Linked DNA regions of Homo sapiens: region 2 is linked to region 1. The links come from fine-mapping of genetic effects on gene expression. A gene starts in region 1. The other region holds a variant in brackets. All regions are shown on one strand. Distances are between the middles of the regions. Region 1 holds the start of PPARGC1A-AS1 (PPARGC1A antisense RNA 1). Region 2 overlaps LOC105374528 (a long non-coding RNA gene).

Region 1 (5,381 bases):
CTCACTGCAACTTCCACCTCCCGGGTTCACGCCATTCTCCTGCCTCAGCCTCCTGAGTAGCTGGGACTACAGGTGCCTGCCACCACGCTCGGCTAATTTTTTGGGTTTTTTTTTTGTTTTTTTAGTGGAGAGGGGGGTTTCACCATTTTAGCCAGGATGGTCTTGATCTCCTGACCTCGTGATCCAACCCCCTCGGCTTCCCAAAGTGCTGGGATTACAGGCGTGAGCTACCGCCTCTGGCCACATAACTGTATTTTTTAACAATTACTTACACACATTGTACAGGTATGGTTCATGATTCAAACACAAATCCATGCTGATCCGGGAATTGATAATATCTTTCTTTTTGTTGTTGCAGCGGGTGTTAGGGTACAAGGTACTGAGTGTTTTAGTCTTGTTTTCTACCCTCTTATTTCCCTTCAGTCCTAATTGACTTTGCCATTTCAAGACTACCTACTCAAGAAGACACACAGAATCTCATTGAATTTATTCAAAGCCTCATAGTTATGATACTTGTACTCATTACCATAGCCAGCAAACCATCAATGTCCTTTATATTGATAATTAATTGCTTTTATCTCTGTCCCTTTGTCTTTATAGCTGAACACTGAAACTTGGTCAAAACTATTCTTACTGTTATGTATAAAAAGATGACTCTACTCACCCTACACAAAAGGTTATTTATCTATCATTTTGGAGAAACTACAGCTGTCATTAGAAGGAATTTGCTTCTACATGTGACTTTTGAAACTCTGCCCCTCCCCTATCCAGGAAAATGGATCTTTGTTTGAGTGACCTTCCACTTATCACTTGAAATCTGTCTGGCAACTTACCTGAAAGGAGACTAATAAGGAGTGAATTATTAGGAGTTAATGCTTAACACTTTCTTGCCAAGTACATTAAATGTACTTATTTTATCTAGGCTATATTTAAAAAGGGCTAAAATATACCTCAGAAGATACCAAAATAAAGAGAGATGTTATCAGGAAACTCAGACAAATTGCTGTTTGGTGACTTGAAAGGAAAGAATTACATAGGAGAAGAGCAAATGAGAAGGTACAAAGAAAATGTAATATAGTTTGTGGGGAACAAAATAAAGCATAAAATTAAGTTTAATAACATTTTGGAAATAAACGTATGTACATAAAAAAAAAACTAAGAAAAAATGGGCTTCTAATTAAAGCCAAGCCAGAAGTAAAAAGAGAGAGTGTAAAAAATATAGAAAGGTTGACTTAAAATCAGCTGATGTCACGGAGAAAGAATGAGCACAGAAATCCCAGCTCCCCATGTTATAATGACATGAACTTGAAAAATAACCCTAAATTCTCTCATTGTAGGTGATGCTGTGAACCCTCCCCAAGGGAGGTACCAAAAGCCTGCATGAAGCAAAAACTGGAAACAAATAAAGGAGAGTATGGTGACTTTGCACTAAGTTACTCATTTATTCACATAATTAATGAGTTTCTATTAGTGTTAGGCACCGTTCTAGATGATGGTATAATTAGTTAACAAAAACCTCAAAACTCTCGCCCCCCATGGAGCTTACATTTCCAGGGAGGGAGAGAGATGATACAACAATAAGAAAATACAGAGCTAATGTCATTCTATATTGTATAATTATGTAAAATCAAGCCTGAGTATTTGACAGCTTCTCAGATACCACAGATCTGTTGTTTAATGAAATCAGCCTAAAAGATAAAATTGTGTATTTGCATGTACACATCACCTTGCCTGTATTATGAGTCAGCGTTTCTTCTTATAAGAAACCACAGCTTGGTAAAAGGTAGAAGCTCAATTTCCTAATAAAGAGATATGTTTTACTAGGCAGGCTGTTGCACTGCATATTACTCTCTCTGACCTTGGCTTTAGTCCAAGGAGGATTAAACCCAGAAAGAGAAGGGAGTAAAGCAAGGTGTAGCAGAAAAGCAAAACAAAACAATACAAAATAACCTCAAAGAAATTAGTAACAATAATTAGTGCATTCAGAGATTATATCTTTCTTTCTTTTTTTCCTTTTTTTTTTTCTTTCGAGACGGAGTTTTGCTCTTGTTGCCCAGGCTGGAGTGCAACGGCGCGATCTCAGCTCACGGCAACCTCCGCCTCCCCGGTTCAAGTGACTCTCCTGCCTCAGCCTCCCGAGTAGCTGGGATTACAGGTGTGTGCCACCACGCCAGGCTAATTTTGTATTTTTAGTAGAGACAGGGTTTCTCCATGTTGGTTAGGCTAGGCTCAAACTCCTGACCTCAGTTGATCCGCCCGCCTCAGCCTCCCAAAGTGCTGGGATTACAGACGTTAGCCACCGTGCCCAGCTGAGATTACATCTTTTTGAAAGCTAAATATATATATATATAACACTGAGTGAAGGAGTTATGTTTTCAGGTAAGGGCTACTGTTCTTGACAATCCATCATCCATCCATCCATCCATCCATCTGTGTATTCTGGAAGGAGTGAGGAACTCATGCAAAGACATAAACAAGTTTACTCTCCATAGCAAAGAGTTGCCCTGATACATGATTGCTTGCAAACTTATATTCAAGTCCTGTGGTGTTTATTCTGTAGGCTTTGCCAATATAGCTGAATCTTAGGAAAAGACAAACCAAAACAAAATTGTAACATAAGCCATATTTGTCTTCAGTCCAGCCTTTTTTTCTGTTACTGCACATTTCCATACCTTTGCATTTTCTTTGTAACCCATAGGCTTGAGTGTTCAGTTTCTTAAAGTGGCTAGATGTCCCTGTCCACAATAGACAAAGTCACACCAAAATCCTAAAAAGAGAAAATTTGCTTCCCATCAAAGGCCTGACATACTTTTGCCATGAATGATATAGAAAGATTCTATAATAGATTAAAGGAAGCTCTGGGAAATTTGTTTTAAATACAATCAGTCTTACATAGACATATATCTTTAAAGTCGACTGCTTGACATTTTTTCCTTAAGATGAAAATTAAATAATGGCCCCTGTAAAAAATCATCAAAGGTCTCCCTTCACTGAAAAAATAAGCAAAATAATGAGACTGAAGCTCAACTTCTGTTTTGCCCACCTTGAATCCCTTTGACACACTTCCAAGTCTACCTTACAGCAGTAGGAGCGATTCCATAAACTGGAGATTTATAACATGACAAGTCAACCCAGATCCTTATGAAACTAGAAATGAGTCAGCAACATTATAGCTGCTTGAAATTCAGGGCATTTCAGAGTGAGGGGGAGAAATCTTCAAGAATTTCACAGAGGATGTTTTACTTTCTGAAAAATTGCTGAGAATTCTTCAGAGGCAAAGTGGTGCCTGGGTTTTTATTTTCCATGTCTAGGTGGTCAGTGAACCAAGGCTTTATGAGCTGGGATCAGATAGCTGGCAATAAGGGCCACATCATCATCTGGATATCTAATTACTTACACACCCCCCTTCCTAAAAAGTGGTTAACCTTCAATGAATCCCTACTTCTTAATGCAGGAGCCAGTTTATGACAGCCTTGTACTGCATTAAGCCTTGTACTGAAGGCTCTCAATGAACTGGCTCCTGCATAACCATCCACATGTCTCCGCTCCAGATTTCCTACCCTTCCCCTCTACACCCATTGCAAATATCCGTGAAACTGAAAGCTTTTCATTTCTTCAATGGATCGTGCTCAAGTTCTAATTATTATTGAGTTTATACTTGATAAACTCTTAATAAATAAAAATTATTATACATAATAATAACAAAAATAGAATTTCATCTCTTGAGTATCTACTTTGTGTTGGATATAAGGATATAAGTCTAGCACTTACCTATATTTTGTTAACTTTCACAAAAACTCTGCAAGCAAGGCTGACCTATTTTGGGGCTCAGGAACCTGCATTTTAAGAGGATCAGTAATAGGTCCAGGGTAACATGGCTAACACATGGCAGATATGGAATTTTAGCATATGTGCAAGCCCACTACTTCTGCTTCTTCCTTGACATTCAAGATTCAGTTCATGGCAGCTATGCCGAGAAAGATTTTCTCTGATGCTCTCTGCCCCTATGGAGGAAAACGGGGGCTTCTCTTGCCACTTGAAAAGCAGTTAAGGGCTCTGTGATGCTTTTATTCTAATGTCCTCACTGACTTACTTACTGGTCTGTCTCTCCAACTTGGATTGGGAGCAACAATCCGGGACTCTTTCTTCTCCACAGCTTCATTCTCTAGCACATGGTAGGTGCTCATAAAATATTTCTCACACTTGGCCTAGCATAAATGAACGAATGATTTAAAAGATGCTGCATAACTACTCAGGGACCAGGTAAAGCCCAGGGAGTAACCCTGCCAAGCCATCCTCAGTCAGCACCATCTGAAGCTACTTTTATGCTATAATAATTTGCCGCGAAAACTAAATGGAATAACCAGATGCGGCTAAAAGTTTTGTTTTTTCAGCCCTCACCCTCACCCCGGCACCCTGGCCCAATTCACCTCCAAAATGATCCAGAAAAACTAAAAGACAAAATTATTGCCCTACAAGGAGGTTTATAAGGGAGCATGAAAGGCGCTGCTGTGAGCCTGTGTGGAGGGAAATCATGATAAAGGCCATTAGGAGGCTTTATTGAATTGTAACCTGGGAGAAATGTGGCTGGATTCATCAGGCCGTGGTTAGGGGACCTAGGAGCAAATTTTACTGGCTGACCTTAGCTAGAGAATTGATTTTTCTTTTCTCACAGCTCCCATAACAAGAGTGAAACAGAGAAAAGACTGGAGGCCAGCAGGGATGGAGAGAAGAGATAGCAGTTCTGTGACAGCCCAGCTGGAGGGAGTCTTCCTTTCCTCCTTCAAGGAGAATGTACTCTGTGTAGGACTGAGGCCTCGGGTAGAGAGGCCCCGACAGGACCCTGCTGAAGATGAAACACCTGTGTCCCTGGGTTCCACTGGGTTAAGAATTTCCAGACCATATCAGAAAGCAGGTCACAGAATCGGGGTCCCAGGTGGGGACACCATGGTTTCCTGCTTCATTTTCAAGTGCCAAATGAGGCATATGAAATTATTCTCTCTCTCTTTGTTTCTATCTCTGTCTCTTTCTCTTTGTTTCCATCTTTGTCTCTTTCCCTCTGTTCTCTCTTTCTTTCTTTCTCTGTCTCTCTGAGTTTGACAAGGAATCAGTATCACACATAAGTGCTCTACACACTTGTTTACCAGGTAATATATATTTTCAGCCCACTAAATGTCTTATAACCTACTACCATGAGAGGACTCAGTAGGAGTTGAAGGTAGCAATATCTATTTACATGAAGAAGCCCTTCCAAAGCATTCCACTTATTAAATAATGAAAACTCCTCTCTGGCAATGATTATTATCATAGAAGTCACACAGTCATTTGTACTTTAAAAAAGATAACCATGATGTTTTTTAAACGTCACCTCTAGTAATTTC
Region 2 (5,381 bases), 46 kb before region 1:
AAAAGAGAAGTCACTTAGGATAACATTTGTTAAGAATCAGTGGTATGTCCTATGCAGCCATGAAAAAAGATGAGTTCATGTCCTTTGCAGGGACATGGATGAAGCTGGAAACCATCATTCTCAGCAAACTAACACAGGAACAGAAAACCAAACACCACATTTTCTCACGCATAAGTGGGAGCCGCACAATAAGAACACATGTACACAGGGAGGGGAACATCATACACTGGGGTCTGTCGGGGGTGGGGGGCTAGGGGAGGGATAGCATTAGGAGAAATACCTAAGGTAGATGATGGGTTCATGGGTGCAGCAAACCACAATGGCACATGTATATCTATGTAACAAACCTGCACGTTCTGCACATGTATCCCAGAACTTAAAGTATAATTTAAAAAAAAGAAAGGAAAATAAATCATTATGTGAAAAAAAAATCAGTAGTATGTCAAGAAATTTAATTTCAGTATATTTTCATAATAACCCTGCAAAGAAAACCTGGTTATTCCCCTTTTTCATTGAGGAAACATAAGACTTCTCAAGAATCTCCAACGTTCTTGGCTAGGCTCGAGGGGGCAGAACTCAGTTGTCTTTGACTCCAAAAACTCACGAACCACAGAAAGTGCATCAACCTTTTTTTTTTTTTTTTTTTTTTTCAAAGCGGAGTCTATCTCTGTCACCCAGGCTGAAGTGTAGTGGCGCGATCTCGGCTCACTACAACCTCTGCCTCCCAGATTCAAACAATTTTCCTGCCTCAGCCTCCCGAGTAGCTGAGATTACAGGCGCCTGTGACAATGCCCAGCTAAATTTTGTATTATTAGTAGAGATGATGGGGTTTCACCATGTTGACCAGGCTGGTCTCAAACTCCTGACCTCAGGTGATCTGCCTGCCTCAGCCTCCCTAAATGCTGGAATTACAGGTGTGAGCCACCGCGCCCGGCCAAGTGCGTCAACTTTTAAAGCTGCGTTACCTCCTTCTGAAAGCCCATTTGAACAGTGAACTTTTATGGTATGAAGAGTGTATTCCTATACGCCAATATGTTAGAAGATTCTGTGGATTAGTAGCAGTGCTTTTTAAGCTTTTTTGTTCATGGTGCAAATAAGGAATGAATTTTATATTAGGACCCTGTACACACATACCTATTCTATGTCTATAAAAGTACATTTGTAACTGAAAACCACTCACAAAACAATACCTTCTTTTATATGTGAAAAGCATTCTGATATGTTCTAGTGTATTTTCAGACTATGTATAATACTAGAACAGTGGTTTTGAGTACTCATTATGGAGCAAAACCAGCTGGGATCATATGTGCATGCAGATACTTGACAATCGTTGTAGGAACTTGGAAAAGCAACTTAACCTATAAAAACAATTATACCTCAAAAGGTTGTCATGAAGATTAAATAAATATTATGTGAAAATCACTGACATAAAAAGTACCCAACAAATGTTGGCTCTTACTCTGTTAGGACCTCAGCACAGGGCCTAGATGGAGCAGCTTTACAATGACTGACACATAAAAGCACCACAAAAAGGTTTGCTGTTTGTGATGCTGTGTACTTATTATGTCTACTAAGTGTAGGGCAATGTGATAGGATGTATAAACAAAAGAAATTGGATAATATTTACATAGATGAGCAAAAGGAATGGGACATCACACAACATAAACAATTTTGTGGAGACAGATTTTTTTTTTTTAAATCTGAGATCAGATTCTTAGTCATTTCCTTTTATAATTTAATATAAAAATAAATATGGTATATGTATTTGTCTAGTCCCTTATTTGAGGCTACTTCTCCCACTAGACTGTAAACCTTTTTAGGGCCAAGACTGTGTCTGTTAACCCACCACTGTATTTTCTTGGCCTGTAGCCATATCTTTGACGTAGAAATCATTCAAATTACTACTTACGGCCGGGCACGGTGGCTCACGCCTGTGATCCCAGCACTTTGGGAGGCTGAGGAGGGTGGATCACAAGGTCAGGAGATTGAGACCATCTTGGCTAACATGGTGAAACCCCTTCTCTACTAAAAATACAAAAAATTAGCCGGGCGTGGTGGCGGGTTTCATGCGCGTCCCTGTGAAGAGACCACCAAACAGGCTTTGTGTGAGCAATAAAGCTTTTAATCACCTGGGTGCAGGCGGGCTGAGTCTGAAAAGAGAGTCAGCGAAGGGAGATAAGGGTGGGGCCGTTTTATAGGATTTGGGAAGGTAAAGGAAAATTACAGTCAAAGAGGGTTTGTTCTCTGGCGGGCAGGAGTGGGGGTGGCAAGGTGCTCAGTGGGGGTGCTTTTTGAGCCAGGATGAGCCAGGGAAAGGACTTTCACAAGGTAATGTCATCACTTAAGGCAAGGACTGGCCATTTACACTTCTTTTGTGGTAGAATGTCATCAGCTAAGGTGAGGCAGGGCATATTCACTTCTTTTGTGATTCTTCAGTTACTTCAGGCCATCTGGGCGTATACGTGCAAGTCACAGGGGATGCGATGGCTTGGCTTGGGCTCAG[A/G]GGCCTGACATTCCTGCCTTCTTATATTAATAAGAAAAATAAAACAAAATAGTGTTGAAGTGTTGGGGTGGCAAAAATTTTTGGGGGGTGATATGGAGAGAGAGAATGGGCGATGTTTCTCAGGGCTGCTTCAAGCGGCATTAGGGTCGGCGTGGGAACCTAGAGTGGGAGAGATTAAGATTTTAGTTTCCTGACTCCGGACATGTTGAGTAAAGCTAATTTGCCAGTCCTGGGTGGGGGCAAATCCTCGAGCTTGATGTGTAGGGAAGGGAGGGGGCCTGAATAATCCCTGAGGAATAGTAGAATAGCAGATGGAACACTGAGAAATTATTTCCTTGAGGATAGATTTCCACGATGGAAAGGAAATGAGAGGTTCTGAGAGGCGGGCTAGTGGCTTGTACTATAGCATAGCCTGCCTTTGCTGGTGTGTGGCGATTAGGCCTGGTGGAACTGCCATCAATAAATCAAGCGTGATCAGGGTGAGGAACAGGAAAGAAGGAAATATGGGGAAATGGGGTGAATGTCAGGTGGATCAGAGAGATACAGTCATGGGGGTCAGGTGTGGTATCAGGAATAATGTAGGAGGCCAGATTGAAGTCTGGGCCAGGAACAACGGTAATTGTGGGAGACTCAACAAAGAGTGAGTACAGCTGAAGGAGCCGGGAAGCAGAAAGTATATGCGTCAGGTATGAGGAAGAAAATAGATTTTGGAAGTTATGAGAACTGTAGAGAGTGAGTTGAGCATAGTTTGTGATTTTGAGGGCCTCTAAAAGTATTAAAGCAGCGGCAGCCGCTGCACGCAGACATGAGGGCTAGGCTAAAACAGTAAGGTCAAGCTGTTTGGACAGAAAGGCTACAGGGTATGGTCCTGGCTCTTGTGTAAGAATTCTGACCGCGCTAACCATGCCTAGGAAGGAAAGGAGTTGTTGTTTTGTAGAAGGTGCTGGGGTTTGAGAGATCAGTCGGACACGATTGGCAGGGAGAGCACGTGTGTTTTTATGAGAATTATGCCGAGATAGGTAACAGATGAGGAAGAAATTTGGGCTTGATTGAAGTAATGGGGGCTGTCTGTGAAGCTTTGCAGCAGTACAGCCTAGGTAATTTGCTGAGCTTGATGGGTGTCAGGGTCAGTCCAAGTGAAAGTGAAGAGAGGCTGGGATTAAGGGTGCAAAGGAATAGTAAAGAAAGCATGTTTGAGATCTAGAACAGAATAATGGGTTGTAGAGGCTGGTATTGAGGATAGGAGAGTATATGGGTTTGGCACCACGGGGTGGATAGGCAAAACAATTTGGTTGATAAGGCGCAGATCCTGAACTAACTTGTAAGGCTTGTCTGGTTTTAGGACAGGTAAAGTGGGGGAATTGTAAGGAGAGTTTATAGGCTTTAAAAGGCCATACTGTAGCAGGCAAGTGATAACAGGCTTTAATCTTTTTAAAGCATGCTGCGGGATGGGATATTGGCATTGAGTGGGGTAAGGGTGATTAGGTTTTAATGAGATGGTAAGGGGTGCATGATCGGTCACCAAGGAGGGAGTAGAGGTATCTTATACTTGTGGGTTAAGGTGGGGGGATATAAGAGGAGGACGCAAAGGAGGCTTTGGATTGGGAAGAAGGGCGGCAATGAGATATAGCTGTAGTCCAGGATAGTCAGGGAAGCAGATAATTTAGTTAAAGTGTCTCAGCCTAATAAGGGAACTGCGCAGGTGGGGATAACTAAAAAGGAGTGCTTAAAAGAGTGTTGTCTAAGTTGGCACCAGAGTTGGGGAGTTTTAAGAGGTTTAGAAGCCTGGCCGTCAATACCCACAACAGTTACGGAGGCAAGGGAAACAGGCCCTTGAAAAGAAGGTAATGTGGAGTGGGTAGCCTCCATATTGATTGAGAAGGGGACGGGCTTACCTTCCACTGTGAGAGTTACCCGAAGCTCGGCGTCCGTGATGGTCTGGGGGCTTCCGAGGCGATTGGGCAGTGTCAGTCTTCAGCCGCTAAGCCGAGAAGATCTGGGAAGGAGTCAGTCAGAGAGCCTTGGGCCAGAGTTCCAGGGCCTCTGGGAGTGGCTGCCAGGTGAGTTGAACAGTCCGATTTTCAGTGGGGTCCCACACAGATGGGACGCAGCTTAGGAGGAACCCTGGGCTGTGGGCATTCCTTGGCTTGGTGGTCAGATTTCTGGCACTTGTAGCAAGCTCCTGTGGGAGGAGGTTCTAGAGGAACGCCTGGCCACTGCAGTTCAGGCGTTTAGAAGTTCTTGTGTGCTGGAGATGTGGCTGGGGTTTGTCTCACAGTGGAGGCAAGGAATTGCAACTTTTTTCTATTATTGTACACCTTGAAGGCGAGGTTAATTAAATCCTGTTGTGGGGTTTGAGGGCTGGAATTTAATATTTGGAGTTTTAATGTCAGGAGCAGATTGGGTAATAAAATGTATTTTGAGAATAAGACGGCCTTTTGACTTTTTAGGGTCTAGGGCTGTAAAGCGTCTCAGGGTTGCTGGGGAACGAGCCATGAACTGGGCTGGGTTTTTATATTTGATGAAAAAGAGCCTAAACGCTATCTGATTTGGGATAAAGAAAAAGGAGCATTAACCTTGGCTATGCCTTTGGCTCCAGCCACCTTTTAAGAGTAAATTGCTGGGCAGGTGGGGGAGGACTAGTCACAGAACGAAACTGTAAGTCGGACCAGGTGTGAGGAGGGGAGGTGATAAAAAGATTATAGGGTGGAGGAGCGGAGGCTGAGGAAGAATTGGGACCTAGCTCTGCCTGGCGAGGAGCAGGCTGGGGAGGAAGGGAGAGGTCAGATGGGTCTGTAGAAAAGGAAGATTAGAAAGACTCAGCGACGCTTGGGGTTGGGACTGAGGGGACAGGCGGGAGGGAAAGAAGGAAGATTTG

What was found. PIP is the estimated chance that this variant, and not a neighbour inherited with it, causes the effect.
Region 2: its variant is fine-mapped to the expression of PPARGC1A-AS1 in lung (TOPMed, PIP above 0.99).

What each region holds. Positions count from the first base shown.
Region 1 is chr4:23,766,982-23,772,362 of GRCh38, forward strand. PPARGC1A-AS1 (PPARGC1A antisense RNA 1) reads left to right here and starts at 2,113. Exons shown (of 3, transcript XR_925475.3): 1 at 2,113-2,155. LOC105374528 (a long non-coding RNA gene) reads left to right here. Exons shown (of 3, transcript XR_925477.3): 3 at 1,338-2,066.
Region 2 is chr4:23,720,809-23,726,189 of GRCh38, forward strand. All of the region lies in intron 1 of LOC105374528 (a long non-coding RNA gene), which reads left to right. Among named protein-coding and RNA genes, the nearest start is that of PPARGC1A-AS1, 46 kb to the right of the region's middle. RefSeq lists an enhancer at 2,153-2,777. The variant A/G (reference allele first, on the strand shown) is at 2,504.